Regions from separate parts of the Homo sapiens genome. Here region 2 is linked to region 1. Evidence: fine-mapped expression QTL. Tissue or cell type: lymphoblastoid cells. Region 1 holds a variant in brackets; the other region holds the start of a gene. All regions are shown on one strand. Distances are from middle to middle.

What was found. PIP is the estimated chance that this variant, and not a neighbour inherited with it, causes the effect.
Region 2: ZNF528 starts here. The variant in region 1 is fine-mapped to the expression of ZNF528 in lymphoblastoid cells (GTEx, PIP 0.97).

Annotation. Positions count from the first base shown.
Region 1 is chr19:52,899,784-52,907,890 of GRCh38, reverse strand. It overlaps ZNF888 (zinc finger protein 888), which reads left to right. Exons shown (of 5, transcript NM_001393938.1): 5 at 1-3,476. The coding sequence ends at 1,726. It also overlaps a transcript of ZNF320 not described here. Among named protein-coding and RNA genes, the nearest start is that of ZNF320, 6.2 kb to the right of the region's middle. The variant T/A (reference allele first, on the strand shown) is at 4,742.
Region 2 is chr19:52,393,144-52,401,250 of GRCh38, reverse strand. It overlaps ZNF528 (zinc finger protein 528), which reads right to left and starts at 3,402. Exons shown (of 7, transcript NM_032423.3): 1 at 3,347-3,402; 2 at 2,632-2,884. It overlaps ZNF528-AS1 (ZNF528 antisense RNA 1), which reads left to right and starts at 3,494. Exons shown (of 7, transcript NR_125345.1): 1 at 3,494-3,789; 2 at 3,984-4,056; 3 at 4,499-4,641; 4 at 4,752-4,886; 5 at 5,501-5,653; 6 at 6,404-6,460. It also overlaps a transcript of ZNF880 not described here. RefSeq lists an enhancer at 2,891-4,090.

The DNA.
Region 1 (8,107 bases):
TTCACATCTGCCTGAACTGCACATATTTCAGCCCGAAGGGAAAATTGGTAATCAACTTGAGAAGTCTATCAACAATGCTTCCTCAGTTTCAACATCCCAAAGAATTTCTTGTAGGCCCAAAACCCATATTTCTAATAACTATGGGAATAATTTCTTCCATTCTTCATTACTCACACAGAAACAGGATGTACACAGGAAAGAAAAATCTTTCCAATTTAATGAGAGTGGCAAATCCTTTAATTGTAGCTCACTCTTTAAAAAACATCAGATAATTCATCTAGGAGAGAAACAATATAAATGTGATGTATGTGGCAAAGACTTTAATCAGAAGCGATACCTTGCACACCATCGTAGATGTCACACTGGTGAGAAACCTTACATGTGTAATAAATGTGGCAAGGTTTTTAATAAAAAAGCATACCTTGCACGTCATTATAGACGTCATACTGGAGAAAAACCTTACAAGTGTAATGAGTGTGGCAAGACGTTCAGTGACAAGTCAGCCCTCTTAGTTCACAAGACAATTCATACTGGAGAGAAACCTTACAAGTGTAATGAATGTGGCAAGGTTTTTAATCAACAATCAAACCTTGCACGTCATCATAGAGTTCATACTGGAGAGAAACCTTACCAATGTAAAGAATGTGACAAAGTTTTCAGTCGCAAATCATACCTTGAAAGACATAGGAGAATTCACACTGGTGAGAAACCATACAAATGTAAGGTTTGTGACAAGGCTTTCAGACATGATTCACACCTGGCACAGCATATTGTAATTCACACTAGAGAGAAACCTTACAAGTGTAATGAGTGTGGCAAAACGTTTGGTGAAAATTCAGCCCTCTTAGTTCACAAGACAATTCATACTGGAGAGAAACCTTACAAGTGTAATGAATGTGGCAAGGTTTTCAATCAACAATCAAACCTTGCACGTCATCATAGACTTCATACTGGAGAGAAACCTTACAAATGTAAAGAATGTGACAAAGTTTTCAGTCGCAAATCACACCTTGAAAGACATAGGAGAATTCACACTGGTGAGAAACCATACAAATGTAAGGTTTGTGACAAGGCTTTCAGACGTGATTCACACCTGGCACAACATACTGTAATTCACACTGGAGAGAAACCTTACAAGTGTAATGAGTGTGGCAAGACCTTCGTTCAAAATTCATCTCTTGTAATGCATAAGGTCATTCATACTGGAGAGAAACGTTACAAGTGTAATGAATGTGGCAAAAGTTTTAATCACAAATCAAGCCTTGCATATCATCATAGACTTCATACTGGAGAGAAACCTTACAAGTGTAATGAATGTGGCAAGGTTTTTAGGACACAGTCACAACTTGCATGTCATCATAGACTTCATACTGGAGAGAAACCTTACAAATGTGAAGAATGTGACAAAGTTTTCAATATCAAATCACACCTTGAAATACATAGGAGAGTTCATACTGGAGAGAAACCATACAAATGTAGGGTTTGCGACAAGGCTTTTGGGCGTGATTCATACCTTGCACAACATCAGAGAGTTCACACTGGAGAGAAACCATACAAATGTAAGGTTTGTGACAAGGCTTTCAAGTGTTACTCACACCTGGCACAACATACTAGAATTCATACTGGAGAGAAACCTTTCAAGTGTAGTGAGTGTGGCAAAGCCTTTCGTGCACAGTCAACACTTATTCACCATCAGGCAATCCATGGTGTAGGGAAACTTGACTAATGTAATGATTGTCACCAAGTCTTCAGTAACGCTACAACCATTGCAAATCATTGAAGAATCCATAATGAATAGAGATCTTACAAGTGTAGTAAATGTGGCAAATTTTTCAGACATCGTTCATACGCTGTAGTTCATGGGTGAACTCATACTGGAGAGAAACCTTACAAATGTCATGATTGAGGCAAGGTCTTCAGTCAAGCTTCATCCTATGCAAAACAGGAGAATTCATACAGGAGAGAAACCTCACAAGTGTGATGATTGTGAGCAAAGCCTTTACTTCACGTTCACACCTCATTAGACATCAAAGAATCCATACTGGACAGAAATCTTACAAATGTCATCAGTGTGGCAAGGTCTTCAGTCTGAGATCACTCCTTGCAGAATATCAGAAAATTTATTTTTGAGATAATAGTTCCGAATGCAATGAGTATAGCAAACCATCAAGCATTAATTGACACTAGAGTCAGTTCAGCATTGACTTGAGTTTGAGTTGACTTAACGTTGAGTTCAAGCATTAATTGACATTAAAGTGTTTATGTTAAGAGGATTAGGCTGAGTGCGGTGGCTCACACCTGTAATGCTAGCACTGTGGGAGGCCAAGGTGGGTGGATCTCTTGAGGTCAGGAGTTTGAGACTAGTGTGGCCAACAGGCGTGAGCCACTTTTCCCAGCCTGTTTTTTGTTTCTTTAACAAAAACAGATACAGATTTTTTTTTTTTTTAATCACCTGGGTGCAGGCAAGCTGAGTCCGAAAAGAGAGTCAGGGAAGGGAGATGGGGTGGGGCCGTTTTATAGGATTTGGGTAGGTAGTGGAAAGTTACAATCAAAGGGGGTTGTTCTCTGGCTGGCAGAGGTGGGGGTCACAAGGTGCTCAGTGGGGGAGTTTTTGAGCCAGGATGAGCCAGGAGAAGGAATTTCACAAGGTAATGTCATCAGTTAAGGCAGGGACCAGCCAATTTCACTTCTTTTGTGGTGGAATGTCAACTGATAGGCATTTTTATGGGTACCGTGTTGAATCTAAATCACATTGGGTTATATAATTACTTAACAATATTAATTTTTCCAAACTATCAATATGGGTTGTATCTCTATGTATGTTTTTAATCATTTTGATCAACATTTATAGATTTCAAGGTACAAACTTCTCAGCTTTGTACGTTTATTCCTAAGTATTTCTTACTTTAAGTTCTCTAGCAAATGGAAGTGTTTTTAAATTTTCTTTTAAAATTGTTTATTGTTAATGTGTGGAAATTCAAGTAATTTTTGGTGCCGATATTGTATTGTGCAAATCCACTGAATTTATTTAGTAGTTTTGAGGGAAGAGAGAGACCCTCTCATATTGTTTTATATTGTTTTATACTCAGTACCTGTTTTAGGAAAAAAACAAGGAAGTGAAATCAAAGACAGGCAGCCCGGCGCCAGGCCTGAAACCAGGCCTGGGCCTGCCTGGCCTAAACCCAGTAGTTAAAAATCAACTCATAACTTAGAAACTGATGTTATTCATAGATTCCAGACATTGTATAGAAGAACATTGTGAAACTCCCTGCTCTGTTCTTTTCCACTCTGAACACCGGTGCATGCAGCCCCTGTCACATACCCACTGCTTGCTCAAATCAATCACGACCGTTTCATGTGAAATCCTTAGTGTTGTGAGCCCTTAAAAAGGACAGAAATTGTGCATTAGGGGAGCTCAGATTTTAAGGCAGTAGCTTGCCGATGCTCCCAGCTGAATAAAGCCCTTCCTTCTGCAACTCAGTGTCTGAGAGGTTTTGTCTGAGGCTCATCCTGCTACTTTTCTTGGTTCCCTGACCTGAAAATGAGGTAACTGATGGATGGCCGAGGCAGCCCTTTAGGTGGCTTAGGCCTGCCCTGTGGAGCATCCCCGCGGGGGACTCTGGCCAGCCTGAGTGACACGATCCAAAGAGCGCTCCTGGGTAGGAAATTGCCCCAATGGAATGCCTCGCCAGAGCGGTGCATAGCAGGCCCCCACGGAGGATTAACGCAGTGGCTGAACACCAGGAAGGAACTGGCACTTGGAGTCCAGACATCTGAAACTTGGTAAGACTAATCTTTGGAACTTGCCCCACTCCACCTGAGTGGAAGCGTGGCCTGATCACCCACAGCATGCCTGTATTGGCACTTTTGTCCTGGTTTTGACTTGGCTTTACTTAGTAAGACTAGTCTTTGGAACTTGCCCCACTCCATCTGAGTGGAAGCGTGGCCTGATCACCCACAGCATGCCTGCATTGGCACTTTTGTTCTGGTTTTGACTTGATTTGAATTGTTAGATACTTTAGTTTTGGTTTTGACTTGGCTTGAATTTTTTAGTACTCAGATTTTGAATTTCATGATTTTGGTTTGGTATAAACGGTAAAAGTGCGTGTGTGTGCCCTCTTTACCCATTCTTGTGGTGAGTATGTGTGGTGTGAGCATGGCATTTTGTCTCAGAAGAAAAAAAAAACATAGTTCAGGCACAAAGTAAGCCCACCCCACTAAGAAATATGTTAAAGAATTTCAAGAAAGAATTTAAAGGAGATTATGGTGTAACTGTGACCCCAGGAAAACTTAGAACTTTGTGTGAAATAGACTGGCCAGCATTTGAGGTAGGTTAGCCATCAGAAGGAAGCCTGGATGGGTCCCTAGTTTCAAAGATATGGCACAAGGTAACCTGTAAGCCAAGGCACCCAGACCAGTTTCAGTACACAGACAGTTACACCTGGTTTTAGACCTCCTCCCCCCGCCCCCCACAGTAGTTAAAAGAACAGCAGCATAAGTGGCTGGCAGAGGCAAGAAAAGACCAGCAGAGAGAAAAAGAGGCCATCTATACCAATTCTAAGTTAATTTAGACTAAACAAGGTCTTATTAATAGCAAAGGATAATTGAAGTCCCAAACTTACAAGGTTTTCAACAAAAGTGAAGTTTGCTAAAAGTTAACAGCGTAGCATGTATTATAGTAACTTCTAATCTGGTAGCCTTAGACAGTCTAGTCCAAAGACATAAAGTTTGCTTTAAAAAA[T/A]TTTTTTATGCAAAAAATGTATAATTTAAAAGTAATAAGGCCTCCTATTATTGAAGAAACAGTTTATGTACAAGGTGTATAAGAAAAGTAAAATATACCTATAGTAAAAAGATTATAAGGAGGCATAAGAATGTGGATTTTTACCTATATTAAAAAGTTAAAAAAATTATTGTTTGAAAGTTTAAGCAAGTTTTAAAACATTAATTGTAAAGAAAATTCTGTGTGTAAACATATTAGCTAAAGTTAAAAAGGTATCATCCAGTTTTTCTGTGAAACGGACATCAAAGTAAAAATGCAACAGGTTTTTTCTTAAAGCATCAACCTGCTCTTTAACAAAAATTACAAAAAGTTAAAAAGAGTCTACAAAATCTAACCTTATGGTCAAACATGAAAAATTAGATAAATATGTCTACAAAGTTTCATTAAAATTAAATTTAACATTAGTAACACACTAATATAAAAGTAAAATTTAGCTTATCTGGTATAAAAATCATACAAGAAGCATTATTAAATATAAAATGGTGTTCAGCTTTCTTTGGTCTAAAAACTAATAAAAATCGGTGCTAAAGGAAGCATTCATTTTACTAGAGGATGATAGAAGTTAAAGACTTAAAACAAACTTTGGCAATTGAGACAGCATACCAAGATGCAAATGCCTGGTTGAAATAGATCAAATATTCCATCTGCACATTAAACAAAAGCAATTGTTATGCTTGTGCACATGGCAGGCCAGAGGCCCTGATTGTCCCCCTTCCACTAAGGTGGTCCTGTAGTTGACCAGGTGTGGGCTGCATGGTAGCTCTTTTCCAGGATTCTACAGCCTGGAGTAACATATAGCTCTCTCTGCTATATCCCGAAGTCCCTGCGGATCAGCCCCCGAGGGCCTTCCAGCTTCCGTCTCCCAATACTAAGTTCACTTCTTGTATCTCACGGCAGAGAGGAGATTTAGCATTCCTTGGAGACCTGAAAGGATGCAGTGAGCTTAAGAATTTTCAAGAGCTTATCAATCGGTCAGCCCTTGTTCATCTCTGAGCAGATGTGTGGTGGTATTGTAGTAGACCTTTAGTAGGCACTCTGCCGAATAACTAGAGTGGCACTTATGGTTTAGTCCATTTCACCCTGGTATTTCATCAACCAGAAAAAAAAAAAAGAAAAACTCATGTCAGCCCCAGCCCTGAGGCTACCTGACCTGACAAAACTCTTTGCACTCTATGTGTCAGAAAGAAAAAAAAAAATGGCAGTTGAAGTTTTAACCCAGACTGTAAGGCCCTGGCCAAGGCCAGTAGCCTGACTCTCAAAACAACTAGACGAGGTTTCCCAAGGCTGGCCCCCATGTCCAAGGGCCCTGGCAGCAATGGCCCTGTTAGCACAAGAAGCAGATAAGCTAACTCTTAGGCAAAACATAAACATAAAGTCCCTTTAATAAATAACAAAAGACATCATTAGCTAATAAACGCTAGACTAACTAGATACCAAAGCTTGCTCTGTGAAAATCCCCACATAACCATTGAAGTTTGCAACACCCTAACCCCGCCACCTTACTCCTAGTATCAAAGAGCCCAGTTAAACATAACTGTTTAGAGGTGCTGGACTCAGTTTATTCTAGTGGGCCCAACCTCTGAGACCACCCTTAAACATCAGTAGACTAGGAGCTGTACGTAGATAAGAGCAGCTTCGCCAACCCCTGCAAAGTGACTCTGAAGAAGATGACAAGCCCTGCTGCAGTCACACCCGGAAGCTGACTGGTCCACGCACGACTGAAGCAGGAAGAAACTCATCGCAGGACTCATTTTCCTTAAAATTTAGACTTGTACAGTAAGGACTTCAACTGACCTTCCTCAGACAAAGAACTGTTTCCAGTATCTACATCAAGTCACTGAAGTTAGACAAAAGATTGCTACAGTCCTATTATTTTATAGTTATTATAAGTGTACCAGGATTCTAAAAGAAATTTGTTTGTATAATGCTATTCTATCCAAAGTATGTAGCCCAAGGAATAACCAACCTGATGTGTGTTATAACCCATTTTAAGCCTCCCATGATTACAGTTTTTAAAATAAAATTAAAGACTAGTCTTTTTCTAAGTGACACAAGTAAAATAATAGCTAGAACAGAAGAGGGGTCCCCAAAAATATAACCTTAAAATTTGATGCTTGTGCCACTATTGATAGTAAGCAGCATAGAATAAGATGCAGTTCTCTAAATTAGAAAAAAAGTTACACAGTTAAAAAAAAAAATAAGTATATCTGTCAAGAATCATATTTATGTGAGATGTGTCAATACTAGTCTTATGTCATTTGGGCTACTTAAAAAGAAGATAAAAATAATCCTGTTTAGCTCCAAAAAAGAAAAGTCAGCCCCTCTTGCATGAGTGGGGGCTGCAGCCTTTTAAAATTGATAATCACAAACCCATCAGACCCAAAGTACAATTAAAAAAAAAATGTAAATTAAGCATTGATGAAAAAAAACTAGATCCTAGCGTAAACATCCTAATAAAAAAAGAAGTTGAAAAATGCTCTCCAGAACCAGTATTTCAGGCTTTCTATGATGAAATAAATGTGCCAGTACCTAAGATTCCAGGAAAAACTAAAAATTTGTTTTTGCAATTAGCCTAACATGAGGCCCAGTCTCTACAAGTCACCTCATGTTATGTTTGTAGAAGAACTGTAACAAGAGATCAATGGCCATAGGAAGCCCGAGAATTAGTTCCTACAAACCCAGTTCCTGATGAATTCCCAGCCCAAAAGAACCACCCTGACAATTTTTAAGTTCTAAAAGTCTCAATTATTAGACGGTATTGCATAGCTAGAGAAAGAAAAAAATTCACTCATCATCCTGTAAGGCGGCTTAGTTGTCTTAGGCAAAAGTTGTATAATAGTACCACAAAAACAGTTACATACTAAAGTTCCAGTTACACAAAAAGAAATCCATTCAGTAAATTTCCAAAGTTGCAGACTGTTGAGGCCCACCCGGAATTCCACCAGGACTAGACGGCCCCCACCAGGTTATACCAGATACATAGACAGAGCTCATGCTAAGCTGCCTGATCAGTGGACAGGTAGCTGTGTAATTGGCACCAGTAAGCCATCTTTCCTCTTACTGCCCATAAATACAGGTGAACTTCTAGGCTTCCCAGTCTATGCTTCCTGTGAAAAACGAAGCATAGCCATAGGTAATTAGAAAGATGATAAATGACCTCCTAAAGAATTATATAATACTGTAAGCCTGCCACTTAGACACAAGACAGCTCATGAGGTTATCGAACCCCCATCTACATGCTCAACCGAATCATACAGTTGCAAGCTGTTTTAAAAATTATTACTAATAAAACCGGTCAAGCCTTGACTGTTCTTGCCCGGCAAGAGA
Region 2 (8,107 bases), 510 kb after region 1:
GTTCAGGAAGCCTATTTTGGACACGTGGAGGTGGAGATGCCTGTGGATGTCCCAGCAGAGATGTCGAGAACATGACTGGACACAGGATTTTGGAATTCAGGGGAGAGGGGTGGGTGAAGAGGGAAAATGGAGACATGTTGGTGGTGTTTAAAACCATAGATGAGATCAAAAGGAAAAGCTGAGGGTGTGGGCAGACAGAACAGGTTTAAGGACTAAATTGGGTGACATTTCCATATTCAGAGAAGACACTTCAGGAGACAGCAGCAGAGGAAACTGATAAGATACGAAAGTAATGAGAAAAATTTTAAACAGATTTTTAAAAATACAAGCAATGTCTTCAAAGCTGCGAAAAAAAAGAGTGATCAGCTGTGAAACATGCTGCTGACAGAAAAAGACAGGAGGACAGAAAATTCAAAGTCAGATTTAAGCAGGGTAAAGGGCTCATGCCTCTAATCCCAGCATGCTGGGACTTCTTTGTAGGAGGATGGCTAGAAGTCAGGAGTTCAAGACCAGCCTGGGCAATGTAGTGAGACTTTGTCTCAAAAAAAAAAATTTTTTTTTCAATCAGCCACGCAGAGGGACAGGCCCATAGTCCTATCTACTCTGGAGGCTAAGACGGGAGGATTGCTGGAGTCTAGGGGTTTGAGGTTATGGTGAACTATGACTGTGCCACTGCATGCCAGCTTGGGTGACAGAGCAAGACCTTGTCTCTAAAAATTAAATGAATAAATAAATAACTAGATTTAGAAACAGAGAAGTCACTGGTGACTCAGATAAAAAAAGGAGCAGTGGAATGGTTGGTGTCAAAACCTGATTGGATGGGGTCAAGCAAGAAATGGAGGAAAGAGTGAGAGAGCGCCTAAACAAGATTTTGGTATATTGTGCTCTTACATGGAGCACAGAAAAGGCATACTTATTGCAAGTAAAAATGTAGCTAATACTTTGTTTTTTCTTCTGAGGATGAAATAGTGGAAAAAATAAAGGCGTGTGTGTGTGTGTGTGTGTGTGTGTGTGTGTGTGTGTTTTAATGGGCAACAACTCCATCTGGGTATGCTGACCAAAATAATTCCCTTGAAGTAAAATCTGATGACACTGTGGAGGAGGGATGCCGTGGCATCAGGAGAGAGTGAATGGGGCTGGCCTGTGGCACACAGTCTCAGCATCAGCAGCAGCCAGGAGCAGGGACAGACAATTCCCAGTCACTACTAAGAACACAGTCCTAGAGACAGGTGAGTGGGCCTGTTGGAAAATTCTTCCCCTTACTGTTTGAGACAGGAAAAAACCACACTGTTTTTACTACTCTCACACCCAAAGGAGAATCCCTCACCTTTAGTGATCAAAATGTGTCTGTGGTTGTTCCTACACTGACCAGTTAAACTGAGTAAAATTACAGAACACCCAGGTGCTGTCTGACGAAGAACTGCTTGTTGGTGACAAGTAATTCCCATATTACTTTGGTGACCAGAGATGAGGCATTCTGTGTTGAGCGCTCTTTATTGTGTTCACTGTGAACACAAAAACACACTGGTTTTTCCTAACTTATACACTCACACCCTAGTCCATCCCAAGAAAAGAGAAGAGTGCCTTATAAATAGTGTTCCAATTCTCATCTTCATGTGTGGTTTTTTGTTTTTTGTTTTTTGAGATGGAGTCTTGCTCTGTCACCTAACCTGGAGTGCAGTGACACGATCTCGGCTCACTGCAACCTCTGCCTCCCAGGATTAAGCGATTCTCCTGCCTCAGCCTCCAGAGTAGCTGGGATTACAGGCGCAGGCCATCAGGCCCAGCTAATTTTTGTATTTTTACTAGAGATGGGTTTCACATGTTGGCCAGGCTGGTCTCAACTCCTGACCTCAAGTGATCCGCTCACCTCAGCTTCCCAAAGTACTGGGATTACACGTGTGAGCCACAGCTCCTAGCCTCATGTGTTCTAAACAAATTTTATATTATAGAAAAATTAATATGTCACAATTCAATCATAATTTCCAATCAACTCACCACTCATCTGTAACCAGGGTCCCCCTCTTTCCTCACTACTGTTTCCCTGCCTCATTCTGTACATATCTCTCATTCTCATCTTTTTTCCTAGCTCTTTTTTTCTCTATTTTCCCCTAGGATTCTGTTCATTTTGAGTCCCTCCTCTTCTCTTTGTCCCATTCTTCCCTCTATTCCTTCTCTCCCACCTGTTCTGATCCATTTTTACAACTTGTTTCACCTCTTATTCCTCTTTCTGCCCAATCTTTCATTGTCCCTAATCTCCATATATTTCTGCCTCTTTCCTCCCACATCTCAGCTCCCCTTGGGGTCTCCCTGTTAAATTCCATCTTCGATATTACACACCCCTGTCCCCACTCTCTGGCACCCTTAGATCCCAGGCCTCCCCCTGCTGTGGTTCTCCCTGTTCTCCTTGTGACCAGCTGCCCCCTCTGGCTGTCCCAGCACCACGCTGCTCTGTCTGACCTGGCTCCAAATCCCTCCTCCTCTCCCCCCTCTGTCTGAGAAGCCTTCCCTATCTTGTTGAATTTCGTCTTTCTACAGACCCAGGTTTGTCTATATTTTTACAGTTACTTTTCTCCCCTGCTATTTTCTCGGCACCTTCTTTCACTGTGCCTCTGCAAACCCCTCACTCACCTTCTACTTTGCCTTCTGTTAATGGGTCTCTCATTCTTCATTTCTCTTTCAAAATTTCTCTATTTCCTCTGCCTCGTTCCCATCTCTTTTTCTCCACACATTCACAGGGAGGGGATTGGAATAAGATGCCCACTTCCGGAAGAGCTCATTTTCTGTGGGCTGGAAACTGGCTCGAGAGAACACTGGATGTCAGGAGACTGAAGTCACCCCCCACACTCGGGGTCAGGAGAACCGGTGGCTGGAAAAGGGAGGCCTGGGGAACAGAGGGTCCAGATTAAGGAGCAAAAAGGCAGGAGTGGGTCAGGAGAGGGGTGGAGTCTGCAGAAACCAGGTCTGGGCAGAGGACGAGGCCTCTCGTGCCCTGTTGGGGCGCTGAGCTCTAGGGGCAAAGAAGGGCGAGGCTAGGGGAACGGAGAGTGAGGATTTTACGTGGTGCGGGGCGTGTGTAGGGGTTACTAAAGGATTTGAAGCAGGTAAACCCCACGATAGGAGGTGTCTACGTGGGTAAATGACAAAAAGACCGGGCACACGACCAGCCTCCAAGCGATTTTAACACGCAGAAAGCGACTCCCAGACTCTCAAAGGATGTCTGAATTTACTCGGGGTGGAGGGAGCGGTGCCGGGATTTCAAGGTCTGCATGCCCCTCAGCTCCCGGGTATAGAAGCAGAGAAGAACTGGCTAGCCTAGACTTAACATAGACAAAGGGAAACTCACGCACTGCTGCGAAAACAGTTTCTCCCTGCAATCGGCTTCCGGGTCTACCGGAAACTGCGCTCTAGGCGTTCGCCCCCCGCGGTCCGCTTCCGGGTTTGCACGAAATTGCGCGCGCATCCTAGAGGCCGGACTGGCTGGGACCAGGGCGGGCCGGGACAAAGCCTGGGCCGGGCCTGCGCTTCCGTTCGCTTGACTGGCTGCGCTTGTTTTCAGGGTTTTGGTCTGAAAACGGATCTTACCTGCGCAGAGCAAAATCGGTTGTAGATTATATCCACGAAAATTCCTTCTATTAAAATGAATTTCAAGTCCCACCTACCCTGGAAGCAGAAAGAGAGAGAAGAGAGAGAGTAAAGAGAAAGAGAAAAGAAAGAGAAGTTGAAAAAGAGAAAGAAAACCAAGAAAGAAAGAGAAAAAAACCGAAAATAAATGGACAAGAAAGAAAAGTAAGGAGGGAAGGGAAGGGAGGAAGGGAAGGGAAGCTTTAGGAATTGAATTAACACACTTTGGAATTGTCTGTGAAGGGGATGATGCAAGCTAAAATGTGAAATGCAAAACCCTGCCAGGGTAGAATGTTCTATTTCATGCCAGTGCCCATAGAAGATAAATACTTTTCATTTATCTTCCCCATTCACTCTAGACGGTGAAGGTCAACCCTGTGCTCAATTCCAGAGACTTTCCTAGGGACATCGTGTTGGGCATGGAGGACTAAGGCCAGTGTGAAGATAAGTCACCGATTCTTTAAAAAAAAAAAGCCAGTAACTTATAAAAATAGCCATAAACGACGTAGTTTTTTGTTGTTGTTGTTGTTTTGAGACAGCGTCTCCCTCTGTCCCCCAGGCGGGAGTACAGTGGCAGGCACTCAGCTCACTGTAACCTCCGCCTCCTGGGTTCAAGTGATTCTCTTGCCCCAGCCTCCAGAGTAGCCACCACGCCCGGTCCAACTTAGTTTTTTAATACTTTTTAAAATTTTAAGACAGGGTCTCTGCCACCGAGGCTGAAATGCAGTGGCGCAATCATAGCTCACTGCAACCTTGACTTCCTGGGGTCCTGGGCAGGTGACCCCCTGTCTCAGCCTGCCGAGTAGCTGTGAGTAAAGGCCTGTGCCTCTCCACTGTGCTAATTTTCTACTGTTTGTTGCTTTGTTTTTAATAGAGATGTAGTCTGGTTTTGTTGCCCAGGCTGGTCTCCAGCTTCTAGCCTCAAGCAGTCTTCCCATCTGCTCCTACCAAAGTGCTCGGATTATAGGCATGAATCACCTTGCATGGGAGATAAGGACCCCCACATCAAGCCCTCAGGTTATTTTTGAAACACAAATACATAAGGCCCACAAGCAGGCCCATTGGCTGCAGACAGTGGGGTCACCTGAAGAACTTTTCTTTGATCTGAGTACCAACTTCTCACCTAGGTCACTGGGATCCTGGACTACGGCACTGCTCCAGGCAGGCCTGGTTATCCTGCTTGAGGCAGCAATCCTCTTGAGCCTAGTGAAATGCAACTGGCTGTACCTCAATGATGTTGCCCTGAGATTCTGCCAGTCGAGGTATTACTTCAATCTCCTGAGACCAGCCTCTACCTCCAGATCCAGGGAGGTCAGTGCACATGTAAATGGACTAGCTTTATTAAAGGGGATATCTGGGCCAGGCGTGGTGGCTCACGCCTGTAATCCCAATACTTTGGGAGGCCGAGGAGGGCAGATCACCTGAGGTCGGGAATTAGAGACCAGCCTGGTTAACATGGTGAAACGAAGTCTCTACTAAAAATACAAAAAAAAAAAAAAAAAAAATTAGCCAGGCATGGTGGCACACGCCTGTAGTCCCAGCTACTCGAGAGGCTGAGACACAAGAATTGCTTGAATCTGGGAGGTGGAGGTGCAGTAAGCCAAGATTGCGCCACTGCACTCCAGCCTGGGAGACAGAGCGAGACTCCGTCTCAAAAAATATAAAAATAAAAGGGATATCTGGATTGGCGGAGAGACTGCAGGACAGCATTCAAGTGGGGTTGAATTGGCCCAGTTGCATCTGACTTCTCACTTGTAGTTCCCAAGAATGAATATAGAATGTGCTGGAAAAGCAACATCCTGAGAGGAAGGGACCGGTGAGAAAAGGACAGGATGTGTTCCAGATCCCCAGAACAGGATCCCCTTTGTTGCTTTAGGCCAACGTGCCATGCATCCCTGGAGCATGAAACCCAGGATGGGCCGCCTTCCAGCCTCCCACAGCTGTGATGCAAGTTGAACACATACAGAGAGACTGCATCTGCACTGGGTGGTTTTCCTGAGCCTTGGGGAGCAGAATGCATGAATCCCAGGTATCTGCCGATCTGTATGTAACAAATTCACTTCATGTAACTTACTGTGTGTCCGTGAGATTATCTCTCACTCAACTCAGACACATTGGCAACCAGTGTGCAGTGAACCTGCTTCACAAGCAAGGATGTGGAGAAACTATTTTCGTACATTTTGTGGGAATCTGAAATACTGCGGTCAGTATGGAAAGCAGTATCATGGGAAACTTCCTCAACTCAAGATCACCTACCAATCCTTACAGAATCAGAATCATCATACAAACTGGTGAAAGCATAGTTTCCCCTAGAGGTTGGGATGAGGGCAAGAATGTCCCCTCTTATCACTACTATTCCACACAATATGAAAGGTTCCAGCCAGTGAAATAAAGGAAAAAGAAATAAAAGTGACAGGCTGGGTGTGGTGTCTGAGGCCTGTAATCACAGTGCTTTGGGAGGCTGAGGAAGGAGGGTGGCCTGAGGACAGGACAAAAAAAATAGTGTACCAACAGAAAATATGTTGGTTGTGCAGGCTAATACCTTTCCCAAAGGAAGGTAGCTACATCCCTATGACCTGTGTTACTGGATATATCAAAAGGGAGTTTGCAAATGTGGTCTAGATAAGGATCTTTAGATAGACATCCTGAATTATATGGTCAAAGTGATAGAATCACAAGGTTCAATATCAGAAGGGTGCAGGTGGATGCGAAGGGACAGAGACAGTGGTGATGTGTTGAAAATAGAGGGATAAAGAGATTTTTTTTCTCACCTTTAAAGATGGAGGAAGTGGACCATGAGTCAAAGGATGTAAGTGGCCTCTGGAACCTACAAAGGGTAAGGAAACAAATTCTCCCCTGGAGATTAATGAAGAATCACAGAACTATGGACCCATATTAGATATGTGACTTACAGAATTATAAAAGAATAAATTTTTCTTGTTTTAAGCCAATCACTGTGTATAGCAATAGGAAACTGATGAAATGATTTTATGTAGAAAATTCCAAAAAAATCTACAAAAATCTCTAGAACAAGAAAAATGTAAAGGTAGCAAAGTATAAGGTCAACCTACAAAAATATCGTATATTTCATCAGCCAGGCATGGTGGCTCGTGCCTGTAATCCCAGCACTTTGGGAGGCCAAGGCAGGCAGATCACTCAAGCTCAGGAGTTTGAGACCAGGCTGGGTAACATGGTGAAACCCCATCTCTACAAAACACAAAAATTTAACAGGCCATGGTGGCACATGCCTGCAGTGCCAGCTACTGGGGAAGCTGAGGTGGGAGGATGACTTAAGCCTGCAGGACACAGGTTGCAGTAGCTGAGATTGCTCCACTGCACTCCAGCCAGGATGACAGAGTAAGGCCCTGTCTCAAAATAATAATAATAATAATCTTGTATATTTCTATACACTAGCAATTTGCACATGAAACCTGATATTAAAAATAAAATACTATGTATGATTGCTCCATTAAGAAAAAGGTCAAAGAGGCCGGGTGCAGTGGCTTACACCTGTAATCCCAGCACTTTGGGAGGCCAAGGCAGGTGGACTACGAGGTCAGGAGATCGAGACTATCCTGGCTAACACGGTGAAACCCCATCTCTACTAAGAAAATACAAAAAAATTAGCCAGGTGTGGTGGCGGGTGCCTGTAGTCCCAGCTACTGGGGAGGCCGAGGCAGGAGAATGGCGTGAACTCAGGAGGCGGAGCTTGCAGTGAGCTGAGATCGCGCCACTGCACTCCAGCCTGGGCGACAGAGCAAGACTCCGTCTCAAAAAAAAAAAAAAAAAAAGGGGGGGGGCAAAGAAATACATGTGAAACAAAACATTCATAGAACTGTTATGTTACAACTACCAAATGCTGATAAAAGAAATCAAAGACAGCAAATAGAGACATATACCATATACATTTATTGGAAGACTCCATGTAAAGCAATATGAATTATACAAATCTGACACATAGGGTTAATACCTTTCCTAATTAAGGCATTCTGCAGATACTAACAAGGTTAGCAGTTATGTAGAAAGACAAAAAACCCAAACACCTAAAATAGCTAAAACATCTGACCAACAACAACAAAAGATTGGTATCACTTCATGTGATTTCAAGTCTTCTAATACAATAAAAGTATTTTTTCCCTTTCTCATATTTACAGTAAACCTAGTTTGTATTTGTCATTGTCTCGAAGCAAGAATCTGTCCCAGAAAAAAAAAAAAGAAAGAAAGAAAATTTCCATTCAAAACTAACAGGATTTAGGCCAGGCATGGTGGCTCACACCTGTAATCCCAGCCCTTTGGGAGGCTGAGGCGGGCAGATCAAATGAGGACAGCAGTTCGAGACCAGCCTGGCCAACTTGGTGAAACCCTCTCTCTACTAAAAATACAGAAATTAGCCAAGGATGGTGGCAGGCACCAGTAATCCCAGCTACTCAGGAGGCTGAGGCAGGAGACTAGCTTAAACCTGGGAGGCAGAGGTTGCAGTGAG